2 separate regions of the Homo sapiens genome follow, and region 2 is linked to region 1. A link means that fine-mapping ties the variant in region 1 to the expression of a gene that starts in the linked region. Tissue or cell type: lung. Region 1 holds a variant in brackets; the other region holds the start of a gene. All regions are shown on one strand. Distances are between the middles of the regions.

Region 1 (8,341 bases):
AGATAACAGCCAACACATACTAAATGCTTACTATGTGCCAAGCAATGTTATTAGCCTGTTATTTTACATCTATTCATTTATTAGCTCCATTATGCAGATAAAGAAACTGAGGCAGAGAGTGATTAATGTGCCCAGGGTCCCACAGTTAGAAAACAGCAGAGTCAGAACCTGAACCCAGGCAATCTTGCTCTAGAGGCTGTTTGGAAAATCACACTGCACCAAGCCAGCTCCAGCCTGTGCATGCAATCAAGCTCCTGGGGTTCTCAGCAAATAAACCAGGTAAACAGCACTCCTCACAGATTGAGGTTTGAAGAGTTTTCTGCATATTACATAATTTCAAGAAGCCTGTGTTAATATTAACACTTGCAAAATTTAGACCAAAGCAAACAACTTAAATTCTACAGAAGACACATAAGTAATATAAGTGAGTGAAGCACACTGGCTGTGAGGCGGGGGGCAGGGTTAATGAGGACCAAGAGGGCAGATGCCTACCTAAAAGAGGCAGCCACCCATCAGCTCCGAATGTCTTCCTAGAAGAATGAAAAGCCAGTTTTGCCATTCCTCACAATTTTTCCAGAAAAGTTGAAAATTCAGACTCGTGTACAAAATCCCCCAACTTTCAAATCTTGGCAGTCATTCAAAATTATTTTTTTCTGAATGATGAGCCAAACAAAACCTATCTGCCAACACAGGCTGACACCCCTGTTCTAAATTCATTGTAATTCTCAGCAGACAATGTAATAACAGTCTTGTGAATGATAGAGTACTGGAAATTAACAGAAGTTCTGAAATGTTAGGAAGACAGTCTTCAATATATAACTACACACAGAGGTTAGTTTAGGTCTAGCTATGTCTAACGGTGAGTACATGGGTCCAAACATCTCTTAAAATTCACATTGTTGAAGTGCATGAAGGGAGCCATGGACATCTGAATCGGATGTCTCCCACGTGGACTTTGGCAGCCCAGGGAGAAGGCAAAAACATTTGCTGGAGTGCAGGAAGAAAATATTCAAGTCTCTATTTCCATATTCAAATCTATATTTTATTCTTTAATATTTCATTTTTGTATATGCACCAGAATGTTTATAATGTACTTTATTTACTTATTTTTGAGACGGAGTCTCGCTCTGTCACACAGGCTGGAGTGCAGTGTTGCGATCTCAGCTCACTGCAACCTCTGCCTCCCAGGTTCAAGCGATTCTCCTGCCTCAGCCTCCCAAGTAGCTGGGATTACAGGCACGCCACACCATGCCCAGCTAATTTTTGTATTTTTTTAGTAGAGACAGGGTTTCACCATGTTGGCCAGGCTAGTCTCAAACTCCTGACCTCAAGTGATCCGCCCACCTTGGCCTCCCAAAGTGCTGGGATTACAGGCATGAGCCACCACGCCCGGCCCTATAATGTACTTTAAAGTAGTACATACATATGTTCTTCAAATAATAAATACAGGTAAGAAAGAAAACAGACTTTTTCATAATTATCACCTAAGACAGTTACCCAAAAACTGGTATCAAAATATATCCGGGCAAAGAAACTAGACCATAAAATCTAAGAAATTCTGTCTAGATTGTCATAAAATCCAAGAAATCCTCTCCACCTGTCATAGAGAGAAACTAGACCCCCAATATTAAATCCAGAGAAGCTTGACCCTTGAGTTCACAATCAGCTGCTACACAGCAGCGCTCCTATGAAACTTCAAGACCAGCAGAAGGAATGGCTCTTTAGGGCAAGGACTGATTCTTATTCACCTTTCCATGCATACTCTTGCTTGTGTGGTAAATGTGATTTACTTGCATGTCTGTCCCCCAACCCAAACCCAGAATAGTTCCAACTTTAAGAGAAGTTAGCACTTTGGGAGACCGAGGTGGGCAGATCATTTGAGGTCAGGAGTTCGATACCAGCCTAGCTAACATGGTGAAACCCTGTCTCTACTAACAATACCAAAAATTAGCTGGGTGTGGTGATGCACGCCTATAATCCCAACTACTCGGGAGGCTGAGGCAGGAGAATCACTTGAACCCGGAGCCAGAGGTTGCAGTGAGCCAAGATTGTGCCACTGCACTCCAACCTGGGTGGCAGAGCAAGACTCCATCTCAAAAGAAAAAAAAAAAAAAGAGAGAGAGAGAAGTTACATGCTTTTTCCCCAGGGAACTTCACTTAGGGCTTGGTTAGATCTGCTAAAGTCACATGGATCACCCCCGCCCACTGAAGTATGAGGGAAAGAAAGAGTGCTGGGAAGAAAAGGTTTTAGCAATGTGCTACTTTGACTAGGTCTTGAAGGACTTCACACAGGACAAATTCAGGCTCTTGGCTATAGTGTTTAACTTTCCTACATTCTACTTGGAAAGTAACAGCAAGCAGAAATTTACTTACATCATTGATTCTCTCTCTTCTACACTCTCCACTTGTCCTTTCCTCAGGTTGTCCTATATGTCCTCACATTAAGCCTAAAATCTTTATGTAAGGGGGTAATTTTTTTAAGATGGGTTGTCACTCTGTTGCTCAGGCTGGAATGCACTGGTGCAATCACTGCAACCTCCAATTCCTGGGCTTAAACGATCCTCCTGTCTCAGACTCCCAAGTAGCTGGGACTACAGATGTTTGCTACCACATCTGGCCTAAGGGGGTATAATATTTTTAAAGTAACACTATTCTTGGTTACAAAAGTTAAATATATTTATATCAGAAATAATAGAAAACAAAGAAGAAAAGTGGATACATTTAGTGAGCACAATAAATGAATGCATCTTAAATCAATCAAGTGGAATAAAGCCTATACAGGAAGCCCTTCAAGTACTTCGCAACCTCTCAGCCCCACATCTTACTCCAGCCTCTGCTGACGTGGCCACGTACATGCAGGCTCAACCAGATTCAAACAGGTATAATCAGACAGCACCTTGCCTCTGCCTCCCTCTCCCCCTTCCACATACCTTTCACCTCCTGCTCCAGAGCTTTCAAATGCCAACTAAGGCTTAGGAGCAGCTCCACACTCATGCATTTGCAACCCAGAAGAAAAACAAACAACCCCATCAAAAAGTGGGCAAAGGACATGAACAGACACTTCTCAAAAGAAGACATTTATGCAGCCAAAAAACACATGAAAAAATGCTCACTATCACTGGCCATCAGAGAAATGCAAATCAAAACCACAATGAGATACCATTTCACACCAGTTAGAATGGCAATCATTAAAAAGTCAGGAAACAACAGGTGCTGGAGAGGATGTGGAGAAATAGGAACACTTTTACACTGTTGGTGGGACTGTAAACTAGTTCAACCATTGTGGAAGTCAGTGTGGCGATTCCTCAGGGATCTAGAACTAGAAATACCATTTGACCTAGCCATCCCATTACTGGGTATATACCCAAAGGACTATAAATCATGCTGCTATAAAGACACATGCACACGTATGTTTATTGTGGCATTATTCGCAATAGCAAAGACTTGGAACCAACCCAAATGTCCAACAATGATAGACTGGATTAAGAAAATGTGGCACATATACACCACGGAATACTATGCAGCCATAAAAAATGATGAGTTCATGTCCTTTGTAGGGACATGGATGAAATTGGAAATCATCATTCTCAGTAAACTACCGCAAGAACAAAAAACCAAACACCGCATATTCTCACTCATAGGTGGGAATTGAACAATGAGAACACATGGACACAGGAAGGGGAACATCACACTCTGGGGACTGTTTTGGGGTGGGGGGAGGGGGGAGGGATAGCACTGGGAGATATACCTAATGCTAGATGACGAGTTAGTGGGTGCAGCGCACCAGCATGGCACATGTATACATATGTAACTAACCTGCACATTGTGCACATGTACCCTAAAACTTAAAGTATAATAATAAATAAATTAATTAATTAAAAAAAAGAAGTGCAGGGGAGTAAATGCCTGTGGGCCACTCTTGGCCAATGGGGACAGAAGCAAATGGACACATGCTTCTGCATGTCAGCCCCAAGGCAGACAGTTCTGAGATATATTTTATATGGCTCCTCAAAAGTGCCTGAGATCAAGTACCCAGTATTCTCAGCAGTGGTCAGTTTGATAATGTATTCTTTTTTGTTTTTTATAGAGATGTGTGTGTGTGGGGGGGGGGGTGCCTCTCACTGTGTTGCCCAGGCTGGTCTTGAACTCCTGGACTCAAGCAATCCTCCCACCTCAGCTTCCCAAAGTGCTGAGATTACAGGTATGAGCCAATGTGCCCAGCCTGATAATGTATTCTTGTACTGGCTTTTTCTCCTTCCCTTTTCTCTTCCTAGGTCCTTTACTCCAATTGGGATCTCATCCCAAATAAACTACCTGAATGCAAGCAATTATCTCAGGATCTGTTTTTGCAGGGACTTGAGCTATAAAGGCAAGTGGCCTTAGAAAGCAGCCCCTCTGGATCATGGAGCTAGATCACCCGCCCTATTGCTGGTGGTAAGTAGGATAGCAATCATCGCAGGCATACAGTAGCATCACATCTACTAAAACTCTTACCTGTGGTGAACTGGGATGAGGTACATATGGAAAGGGAAATAATGAATTAAGTGGTAGTTGTGGTACTTGAATGACATAGGGTCAATGGTAATTATAAGAATCATGGAGTTGTATGGCTTTTATTAACTGCTTTGGAAGCCTTGAAGAGGTAATATTAAAATTATATGTTTAGGTGCATTAACTAT[T/C]AACTCAAAGAGGATTGTGAAAGGCCTCCTTGACAGTGTTTAGGTTGACTCATTGCCTGCAGCCATGGGGCTGAAAATCAGGCTCAGGAACTAACTATAAAGCTGAAAGACCTGCAAAGGAAAATGAAGGCACAGTCTCAGTACGTCTCTCATGTCAAAGTCAGAGCCCTCATAGGAAAAGAGAGGATTCCAAGACCTGGAATCAGGGCATCTGGGCAGACATCTGAGAATCTTTAATCCTCAGGTTCCTTTGAATTCTCCAAACCATTAGCAACTCTCCCTTCCTCTTGCTAGAGGAGAGCAATATCCCCTTGCCTAGAGACCCTGCAAAGTCTTCACATGAGGTAGCTGCCTAACAAGGAAATTTTTGTCCTTTTTAAGATCTGCTGCCAGTTAATCTCTTTGCCTCTGAGCCAGTAACTACAGTCAGGTCCCGGCACAGCCCAAGCAGGGAAATATAGTTCCTGCTGCAGAAGTAAACTGCTTATTCATCAAAGGAATATGTATCAGTGGGAACCAGAGGAAGATCATCGGGAGTGGTTTTAGACCAGGGGCTACAAAATGCTAAGTTGGATAAAGAATAATTTATTGATATGGGGGTACTCTTCCATGACTCTGGGTTCAAACTCCTGACAAGGACACCTGAAACCAGTCCTAACACCCAGATGGAATGGCTCCAAGAAGCCTGGATAGGAAGATGGTTTCCTGTTAATGAGGTGGAGATGCTGGATCTGAGGAGGTGATTAGAAGGGTCAGGGTGGTAAGATCATTAGTATAGATTTATTATATGAGACCGAAGAATCCACACCTATGTTTTCTGGAAGGATAGAAAGGAGAATTCTCCTTTCACAGAGGCTATAAAAAAGTGAACTGATGAAAGAGATGTTGATATCTTTGAGATGCACAGTTGGTCCCTTTGGGAACCATGTCATGTCCTCTAGGCCCTACCCCTCTAGCCACTGGCAATAATCAGGCCCACATAGGCTTTGACCAGCTTCACACTGAGGCGGTGACCTTTGGCTTTCTGGCCACAAAGAGGTGCCGGATGCTTGGCACTCACGCATGTGCAACTAGGTAGTATGAGGGAGCTAACCCCTGTGAGGCTACTCTCAGTCAATGGGGAACAGATGCCGGTGAATAAATGCTTCCCCCTACCGCTGTCCAGGGTGGACATTTCTGATCCACATTTCATGGGGCTTCACAGAGAGGCATGGTATCACCAATCACTAATTGCTCCCAGCACTGGCCAACTTGTTAATATATTCTGATATTAGTTCTTCACCCGCTCCAATCCCACTCCATGGAATCAATTCCCAAATAAATACCTGCATACATGCTATCACAGAAACATGGGATAAAACAAAGCCCAATAGTTTGGAGGGCAGGGGAGGAGTATTTTTATGTGGGTCAAGACCTCAAAGCCTCCTAGGAAATTGATCTTGCAGCAGAAGTGGCAGTGATAAGAGCATCATCACCAGATACTCACCCCCAACCAACCTCCCACTGAATCTCATCACAAGCACATAAAGAACACGCCTTTTTTTTTTTTTTTTTTCAGTAGAATCAAATTCTTCCTTCACACATACCCTCCACACTGGGTCTTTTATAGCTCAGCCTGATCAGCTGACAGCAAAGTAAATAAATATAGAGACACAACAGTGGAAAAATGAGGTGAAAAAGTTTTAACAGATATATAAATGAAACTCTCAGGTGATCTTGTCATAGGATTTCAGCTCCAATCACATATTAAAAAGAGCCCATTGCAGGGCCAGGCACTCCAGGTCTGCTTAATTTTCTTAATTTTCTGCTATTGGACAGAAAATATTCTCCTTTATTCTAGATCTTTTGATAGAACAACGACTTCATCAATCTTTTTTTTTTTTTTTTTTTTTTGGAGATGGAGTCTCGCTCAGTCGCCCAGGCTGGAGGGCAGTGGCACGATCTCGGCTCACTGCAAGCTCTGCCTCCCGGGTTCACACCATTCTCCTGCCTCAGCCTCCTGAGTAGCTGCGACTACAGGCACCCGCCACTACGCCTGGCTAATTTTTTTGTATTTTTATTAGAGACAGGGTTTCACCGTGTTAGCCAGGATGGTCTCGATCTCCTGACCTCGTGATCCGCCCGTCTTGGCCTCCCAAAGTGCTGGGATTACAGGCGTGAGCCACCACGCCTGGCCAACTTCATCAATATTTACAGCTAAACAAGCAAGAATATGTCATGACTTCACAAAAATAAACATTTAAAAGTCAATCCAAAAATAAGAATTGATTTTTCTGTGGGAGGTACAAACCACACTGTATCAAGAACAGGGCACTTCTTAGGAAAATGCAAGAATTTTAGCAAACCAAATATACCCGTCTCTTTAAAATATCTTTTCATGCTTTATTAGTGTACTTGCCTTAGAGAATCATTTATGTATTAGCTGGTTTGGGGTTGTAATTCTTTATGCATATCAAAGATACTAGAACCCAATCAAGTCAACATGGGCTGTGGCCCCATGAAGTCATACATGCTTTTTTTATAGTTGGCAAAAACACTACACTTAACACAAAAATGGGTGTTCACGGAAACCACACAAGAAGAAGACAGGCTTGGTTTTGTCTTTCACATCGATAATGAAATAATGCAATGCACTATTACTATGCTGTTGACCCCTAAGTGAAGTGTAGTACATAATCTGATTTGGCTAGCAAAAAGGAAGTTGGGAAAGAGAGGCTAATTTAAACAGGTATCCAATAGTTAATCATTTCAGCAAACCAATTGGCACATCCTAATCTGCATGAATATTAAAATTATATTCATATATGCTTTTTTATTTTGAGGCAGAGTCTCACTCTATTGCCCAGGCTGGAGTGCAGTGGCACACTCTTGGCTCACTGCAACCTCTGCCTCCCGAGTTCAAGCGAGTCTCCTGCCTCAGCCTCCTGAGTAGCTGGGACTACAGGCACACACCATCACACCCGGCTAATTTTTGTATTTTTGTAGAAACAGGGTTTCGCCATGTTGGCCTGGCTGGTCTCAAACTCCTGACCTCAAGCATCTGCCTGCCTCGGCTTCCCAGAGTGCTGAGATTACAGGCGTGAGCCACTGCACTCAGCCAACTTATATTCATACATGCTTAATCACAGTTGCTATATATCACAAATGATGCTGGATGAAGAAACAAGTAATCAAAGGCTGTATACTTAATAACTGTTGTTCACACTGAAATTTCTTAGGCTATTAATATCTAAGTTCTCTTCTGTGACTTTAGGCTATTTTAAAAAGGGGGAAAAATACAGAAACCTTGTTACCATGGAGACTGTAAGCCGGTCAGCCCATCTGCTGAAGAGGATATATAATTTTGTAAGTAGAATTTTTAAAACCTTACTATGAGAAACACTTCCTCAAACATAGCAGGGGTGAGAGAGTTACAGAAGATCTGGCAAACAGCCATTTGCAAAATTTGGGGCTATCATTATTTTGATACTAAACATGAATTTGCAGTAATTCTTATTAAGGGGAAGCTTTTAATATCTACACATTAGGCTGCTAAAGACATGAAACCTCTCGGCATGTTCTATGTTAATGATGGTTATGCCAATTTTTAGGGAAAAAAATTAAGAATTTACATTAAAAACTAGTCAAGGGAAACCTAAGATTTGGTTGGTTTGGTTTTTAAA
Region 2 (8,341 bases), 31 kb after region 1:
GAAGACAGTGTGTTCAAACTCTGTGTCCAGAGCTAAGAGATCATGGCTCAAGATGAGGCTGGAAGCAGGCAGGGGCCAGGCCAGGTATGACTTTGCTGGCCTCATAAGAGCAGACTTAACAAGGAAAAGTCAACAAACTATTCCCACTCTGATCAGATTTTCTCTTCAAACCCCAGTGGGAAGAGGACTAACTTGGAGTACTCAGCCGTATAAACTGTATGTGTAGTGACACCCATGGGTAGATATACTTATGGATATATAATAGATACTCGGGGTACATGGTCATTGAGCCCGCCCTCTCGTTCCTTGTTACATGTCACCGTACTGTTTGTAGACATCTCTGTCTCCATTGCTAGATTATAAAAATCTTTGAGTACAGGGGCTGTGTCTCATCCATCTTTTCATTCCTCCCCTACAATATCTAACATAGTGCTAGGCACATAGCAAATACTTAAGTGTTTCCTAAAACTTTAAAATATGACTAGATAATCCATTCATAAATAGCCTGTAAGAAGGGCTCTCCTGAAAGAAAATTCTATGGCCTCATTTGGAAAGCCACTCCAATGATGGCAACACTCTTAGGAAGGTCTTGCTGTAAAACATCATTCCTTTCTAATTTGGGCCAGTTCTTGAGTTTCATCCCCAATGAAGAGTGAGAACACTTCATCACATTTCCAAAGAAAGCCTTTGTGTGTACTTTGAAGATCATTTCTGGGTCACTCCTAGCTTTCTTTCCTTTCAGCGGCAAAGTACTTCATCTTCTCACCTTTCCTCAAAGAAGCCATTTATTTGCTCCCTGGATTCATTCCAAAACCTCCATCCCTCCTAAATGGTGGAAGCCAGAAATCTTGTAGACCAGAAACAAGGTCAAAGATTCCTGAGGGGCTTCATGAGCAGTCCTCAGAGTGGAAGCAGGCTCTCTTTCTCAGTCTGCTTGTTTTCCAGCCAATTCAAATGTTCATGTGTGTGCATGCACACATATGTGCATATATAGTCTCAGAAACACTGAAACTTTTTAACAAGCTCAAAGAACAAATATTGTCTTATTGGGTGAGTTGCCAACTGCCTTCTCTGCTTCACCAACAGCCCAGTCTTCCCCATCCAATGTAACACATCGATTTTTTTTTTAATGAAAGCTTTTCTCCATATTTTTGTAAATAATATGATAAAGAAACTAGCAATATATATATTTTTTGGTATTCCACTATCTTCTTCAAAGGCATCACAAAGACTGTGAAACAGCACCAAGAAATTTCATCACTCCAATGTATCAAGAATTCAAATATCAATAAATCACTGGTCATTCTACAAATAATGAGACTCTGTTTTTGTTTGTTTGTTTGTTTGATGGAGTCCTGCTCTGTCGCCCGGCTGGAATGCTGTGGAGCAATACTGGCTCACTGCAACCTCCACCGCCTAGGTTCAAAAAATTCTCCTGCCTCAGCCTCCCGAGTAGCTGGGATTACAAGCACACACCACCACGCTTGGCAAATTTCTTTGTATTTTTAGTACAGTCGGGGTTTCACCATGCTACCAGGCTGGTTTGAAACTCCTGACCTCAAGTGATCCGCCCACCTCAGCCTCCCAAAGTGCTGGGATTACAGGCGTGAGCCACTGTGACCAGCCCAAGGCTCTGTTAACGTAAGCAGCTGTTATGCTTTCATAAAAAATATTTTTTGGCATTGGGGTGATTTCAATTTTATCCGAAAGTTATTGTTAAACTGCATTTGTAATCATTTTCCTTATCTCATCAAAGAAATGTAAATCCCTCAGTTATTTTTATTGTAGCCAATACAGAAGTCTGTATGATGTCATTTGAATGAGATCATGTGTAGTATACTCAGTGAGTTGTAAAGTGCTCATAAAAATTAAGTAGCCCGGGCATGGTGGCTCACGCCTGTAATCCCAGCACTTTGGGAGGATGAGGTGGGCAGATCACGAGGTCAGGAGATAAAGACCATCCTGGCTAACACGGTGAAACCCTGTCTCCACTAAAAATACAAAAAAGTTAGCCAGGCGTGATGGCGGGTGCCTGTAGTCTCAGCTACTCGGGAGGCTGAGGCAGGAGAATGGCGTGAACCCAGGAGGCAGAGCTTGCAGTAAGCAGAGACTGCGTCACTGCACCCCAGCCTGGGCGACAGAGCAAGACTCCGTCTGAAAAAAGAAAAAAATTAAGTACTATTTTTGTGCCGAAAAATAAGATTGTGTATATAATACAATTACAATTAACTCCTGAATTTAAATTAGACCATTTAATCAAACCAATGAATTCCCATTTCATAGATGAAATATATTTATTTAAAAAAATCTACTTTGCTTTAAATTATTCCCAAAATTATTTAGCATGCAATACTTTTAACATTTCTTAAGCCAGCACATAGCAGCACGCTTTACAAGAACTTATATATACATCATCTCAATCAGTTACGGGCATAAATTGAGAAAAGAGTAAGAATATTAGAATATTATTTTGTTTGTGCTTGGAAGGAAGAATAAAGCATTAGTGCAGTTATGTAGATGAACTCAAAAGTTTTAGTCAAACAGCTTATGGAAAGAACTGCTGTGTAATTAGTATTTCCAAGAATTTGCAACAATGAAACACCACTAAAAATAGGCACCTACAAAATAAACACCAGCAAGACCTCAAACAGTTGCATAACAGAAAAATGTTTTTAAGATAAACAATATGTTTGCCTTATCAAATACATAATCTAAATACTGCAAAGGGGATAGAATGCACTTTTAGAATGAATTCGGAATCCAAAATGCATTTATTTCCATAATGTACATGCTTAGTGCTCGCTGAATTAAATGGTAGTCAAAATTTCCGCTTCTGCAGAAAGTGAAATTCTGCATAATAAATATCATCTAAATATGCTTTATAGACCCTTTTAGGAGAGGTCTGAGTTCAATTTTGATATCAATTCCTCGTTGATATGTTTAAATTGATGATAATCACTAAAGAAACACCAGAGCTGCCATCATAGGTTAGAAAACACATTACACAATACTGAGTGACCTAGAGGGAAAAGAACTTCTCAAGGTCACTCCAGCAGCCCACAGGAAGACCTGGGATAAAAGCCTCTTGGTGCGATGACCAATGTCTTCCTAGGTCACCCGAAACCTAGGACACACCCCGACAATTTCTGTTCCAAAGAAAGATCAAGGTGACTCATTGCATGATCTCTCTAGCACCCAGCAGCCAGGGGTGGTTTCATTAACAGCACATGGACAGTTGGAAAACTGAGGACCAATTTCCTGTGCCAAGGTGAAAGGCACCTAAGCATTGAGCATTACCAGCGATCCGGAGATCCCGAGCACAGACAATTCGCACTAGAACCACGCAGGAGAAAGCAAGCACTAAGAAAACAAACACGAAGTGAAGGCGCACCCAGACCCGGAGCTGAGTGCTGGCCTTCGTTAATTCCTATTTAACCAGATACAGCTGTCTTTCCCTAACTAAGCGAATCCAAGAAGCGGTCCTAAAGTGAGAGTAAACTTTCTGCTCAGTGTCTTTCTTTTGACCGGAGCTTGACGATCTCTCCCAAGATCCAGACAGATAAGAGTATTCAAATTAGGACAAAACAGAAGAAACCACTAAATCTCAACTCGAATCAAACCAGGTCCCCGGCCCCGAGGGGTCTGGTTACTCTAGGTCGAGTTATACGAATTAAAGACATTTCTCCACGCACCAAAGATACAACCAGACATATTTCCAGCTCTTAAATTCAACGTCCCTGACTTAAGCCAGGTCCCCACCGAACTGTCCACACACATGCACAAACTAACTTCCCGGGGCGGTGCGGAGACGCCGGGACGCGAAGACGTCAAGAGCCCAGGCTAGAGGGAGAGGGACTGAGCCCGAGCACCGGCCGAGGCCGGGAAGAGACGCGCGCGGGCTTGACCCGCAGCTCCCGCACGTGTGGGCCACGGCCGGCTCCAGGACCCCCGCGCCGCGCGCTCGGCCTCCTCCCCATCCTGGTCTCCCGCCTCCTTCTCATACCTGTCTGAGGATGAAGCTGGTCGAAGTGGTGCTGCCATCGGATCTTTTCAACCTGCTCCTCCGGGTTGTGGTGCCTCGGGCCACCTGGACTCGACACACGGGGGCCAGAGAGAAGCCGGTGAGGACCGCAGCGCAGAGCGGGGCGACCACCCCCGGCTGGAGTCCGCCTCCGGACCCGCTCCCTGGGGTCCCCTAGAGCCCGCACCCAAGTCTCCTCCGCGACTCCCAAATACAGCCCCCACCCCCACCCACCCACTGCAAGCCTCGACTGCTGAAAAGATGCTCGAGAAGAGCAGCCCGCAAGCACCCACCACATCCATTAACAAAGACTCTCAGGGTGCGGGGTCCGAGTCCCCGGCATCCGCTGGGGGAGGCTGCGGGCTCCGGAGCGGGAGCGCAGAGACCCGAAGGAGGGTGAGGAGGAGGAGGAAGAGAAGGAGGAGAAAGAGGAGGAGCGGGAGGAGAAAGGGACGTGGAGGAGGGGTGGGGGGAGCGGGGCCGCCGACTCCCGGGACTGGGGCCCCGCACGCCCGGCACGAAGGCGGGGCGCGCTAGGGCGGCGGAGGAGGTGTGAGGAAGGAAGAGGAGGAAGAGGAGAAGGGGGAGGAGGGGGCGGTACCTGCGAGGTGGGGGAGTGCGGCCCGTCCGCGGTCCCGTTCTTGGCGTAGGAGGAGGAGGACATCGTTCAGAGCCGCCGCATGGCCAGCCCGTGTGCGGTGGGCGGAGGGGGCTGGCCCCCGAGGCTGGGCTGCGGACGGAGGGGGAGGGCGCAGGACTTCCCCACCCGGCTCCAGGACCCGCGCCGGCGCCCAGGCTCCCTGCCCGCACTTCGGAGAGCGCGGCACCTTAAAGGGACCGAGGCGCTTCCCCCGCGCTCGCGGCGGGGTCCCGGGGAGGGGGCTTCTCGGAAACTCGCCTACCCGAGCGGATTGGGAGAAGCGCTCTCCCACCTAGCAAGCGCTTTACATCAGAGCTTCCAGAGGATGAAGGGAGGGGGAAATCTGGGATGGGGGTGGCAAGATTAAAATAGTCTGCACAGTTTAAAATGAGACAAAGGTGGCACGGTTCATGAATCAGGACTTGGGGACGGAAGCTGGTGCAGTGTGGCGGGAATGGGAAGAACCGAGCGGGTGTGTGTGTGTGTGTTTGCTGCACTGGAATTTTAAAAGGGCAAGAGCAGAGCCACCTTCCGCGACTTCACTCATCAGCCTAATGTGTAAGGCATGGGGTTTTGTGGCTTGCTTTTCGTCCGTGTTTTTGTATTGCTTTGGCAATTCTGTCCTTAGAGCTGCGAGTCACACACATCCAGGCAGCTGTGAGAAACCCAGCCAGCCTGAGTCTGACGGGAGATGCTGCCCCGCCAAAGACCAGTATGTCCTACGGAGTTTTGAAGGTCATGTTAGACCTGCTAAGAAGCAAGAGTTGGTCACTGTGCCTCCCATTTCTATGCGAATGGATATTTTCAAGGGGGAGAAACTCATCCTTGCAACCATACACAACGTTTGCCATTGGTTTCCTCCTGTAAATACATACAAGAGATTAATTTGTGATCAAATTAAAAGAGAGGGATTGCGGAAAGGAAGAATAAGTGCGAGGTATTGACAGAGGAATAAGAAGAGGGAAGAAAAGTATATGCAAATTCAAAAATAAAGAGACTCCGTTTAAATTAAAATATACTTACTATCTCAAATCGCTAAATCAGCTTGCATTCTAGGACTTTATGTTTATGGACACAACTACCATGCTTGTTTTAATAATTGCTTGGCTTTATTGAGGTCCTGGTTATATCTTACCATCCACCAGACACTTCCTTTCCATTCCTAATCCCTTCACTTAATCCAAACCTCTGTAACAATCTTATAACTAATGTCCTTGCCTCCAGGCTTCCTGGTGCATGTGCACGTATGCACATGCACACATACACACGCAGAGATTTCATTCCATCTACACACTACAGGCAAAACCATTTTCCTAAAATATCTTGCCCAAGTCACTCTTCTCTAAGATAAAGTCCAAACTCCATGGTCCAACAACTCAGCCTCTCCTGCATTTCTGATCACTCTCCATCTCATTTCTCCATCTTGATCTCTCTATACAAACCTTCCAGCAAGCAGGCAGGTCTAGTCATCAATACCCAAGTATTCCAAATACAATCACATTTGAGCTCTTCTGCTTTGGAATGCCTCCTTGGAATATGCCCTCCCAACAACCTACACACCCGGCTGAATCCTACCTTTCTTCTAAATGGGACTCAGCTCACGCTTCCTCCACAGAAATCCTATCTGACTACTCCAGTCCCACATAATTCTTGTGCTTCTGAAAAACTGGAGCATGTATTCTCTGGGCACTTAGAATAGGCTGCCTTAGCTTATTAGTTTGTTAGTTCTGTTTTTGTGAAAATCTCCTAATTTTCAGAATTTTTAGCGGTTTATCTTCTATTCCTATACCTTCCATATAGTAGATACTCCATGAATTTATGGGGAATGGAGGTCTAACCATGCAGGACTCCCTACTTTAGTTACTGTCAACCCAATCCGTATTTAGTTCTGAGCCATTTTCATAGTTGATACGTGTGTGCATATTAAATTACTATGTGAGCACTGGACTTTGAATTGTGTGGTTTTCCACTGTCCACATTCTCACTGACTTTAAGTTATTGAAACAGAACCCACAGAGGCATAACAACATGAGAAGCCCTGTACACCCAGCTCAAAGCAAAACTGGTGAAAATTATATGTTTTATATATAAGCAACCATTTAAATTTCTAAAAATGGTCCTAAAGGTGCACAACAAATGAAGGAACATTTATTCAAGAAAACCTACTGAAACCCAGTAAGAAAAGTGAGCTTGAGGTATTTGAACCAAGACCTACTCACTCTTTTCATGCTTCCAACTCAGAGAGGGCTCCACGCTATACTGGTGCAGCCAAGAACACAGGGCTCCCTCACCCTTCAGCTCCCAGTTGGAGGGTCAGCTTCCTAGGAGGGACAAAACATCAGCATTTGTCATCCTCCCCGCAGCTACCTGTTGTTGAGACTAAGTTCTAAGCAAGTATGGCAGAGGTGGGGGCTCCCTTCTTCTGCCCAGTTGTACCTGGAGGCTGTACCTTGGCCACAGCAGCACTGAGTGTACTTGGGCCTTGATCACCTTTGCTTCTGGCTCATCGAGAAAGAAGTCAGGAAACGTGGGACTGCTTTGAGTGCTTCTGCCAGAAACATTCAGCATCTAACATGGTGATGTCACTCAGAGAGAGGTGCATCATTGTCCCTACCTCTGACACCAGAGTGGAAAAAATGATGTTGAACCCTGACCTTACATCAAGGATCCCCAACCCCCAGGCCACAGACTAGTACCAGTCTGTGGCCTGTTAGGAACTGGGCCACACAGCAGGGAGTGAGCGGTGGGGCAAGTGAGCATTATGGCCTGAGCTCCGCCTCTTGTCAGATCAGGGGTGGCATTACATTCTCATAGGAGTGCAAACTCTATTGTGAACTGCACATGCACGGGATCTAGGTTGTGGGCTTCTTATGAGAATCTAATGCCTGATTATCTGTCACTATCTCCCCTCACCCCCAGATGAGACCATCTAGTTACAGGAAAACAAGCTCAAGTCTCCCACTGATTCTACATTATGGTGAGTATGTAATAATAATAGAAATAAAGTGCACAATAAATGTAATGTGCTTGAATCATCCCCAAACCATCCTCCATCCCCGTCCCATAGAAAATTGATCTTCCATGAAACCAATCCCTAGTGCCAAAAAGGCTGGGGATTGCTGCCTTATATCATATACAAAAATTAACTCAAAATTAATCAAAGACTTAAAAGAGTTAAAAATATAAAACTATTAGAAGATAAGGGTAAATCTTCATGACCTTAGATTTGGCAATAAATTCTTAGACATGACACCAAAAGCATGAGTAGGAAAAGAAAAAAATGTTAGACAGGCATGGTGGTGCGTGTCTGTGGTCCCAGCTAACCAAGAAGCTGAGGTGGGAGGATTGCTTAAGCCCAGGAGGTCGAGGCTGCAGTGAGCTGTGACACGTCACTGTACTCCAGCCTGGGCACCACAGTGAGACTCCATCTCCGGCTCAAGCAATACCTCAGTCTTCTGAGTAGCTGAGACCACAGGTGGGCACTACCATGCCTAGCTAATTTTTTATTTTTTATAGAATTGTAGTCTCCTTGTGTTGTCCAGGCTGGTCTTGAACTCCTGGACTCAAGCCATCCTCCCACCTTGGCCACCCAAAGTGCTGGGATTACAGGTGTGAGCCACTGCACCCTGCCTAATTGTATACTTTGAGTGGGTGAATTGTATGGTATGTGAATTATATGT

The links.
Region 2: CACNB4 starts here. The variant in region 1 is fine-mapped to the expression of CACNB4 in lung (TOPMed, PIP above 0.99).

What each region holds. Positions count from the first base shown.
Region 1 is chr2:152,063,288-152,071,628 of GRCh38, forward strand. The region is part of intron 2 of CACNB4 (calcium voltage-gated channel auxiliary subunit beta 4); the gene reads right to left. Among named protein-coding and RNA genes, the nearest start is that of CACNB4, 32 kb to the right of the region's middle. The variant T/C (reference allele first, on the strand shown) is at 4,680.
Region 2 is chr2:152,094,327-152,102,667 of GRCh38, forward strand. It overlaps CACNB4 (calcium voltage-gated channel auxiliary subunit beta 4), which reads right to left and starts at 4,718. Exons shown (of 14, transcript NM_000726.5): 1 at 4,623-4,718; 2 at 4,004-4,087. The coding sequence starts at 4,685. RefSeq lists a silencer at 4,627-4,916.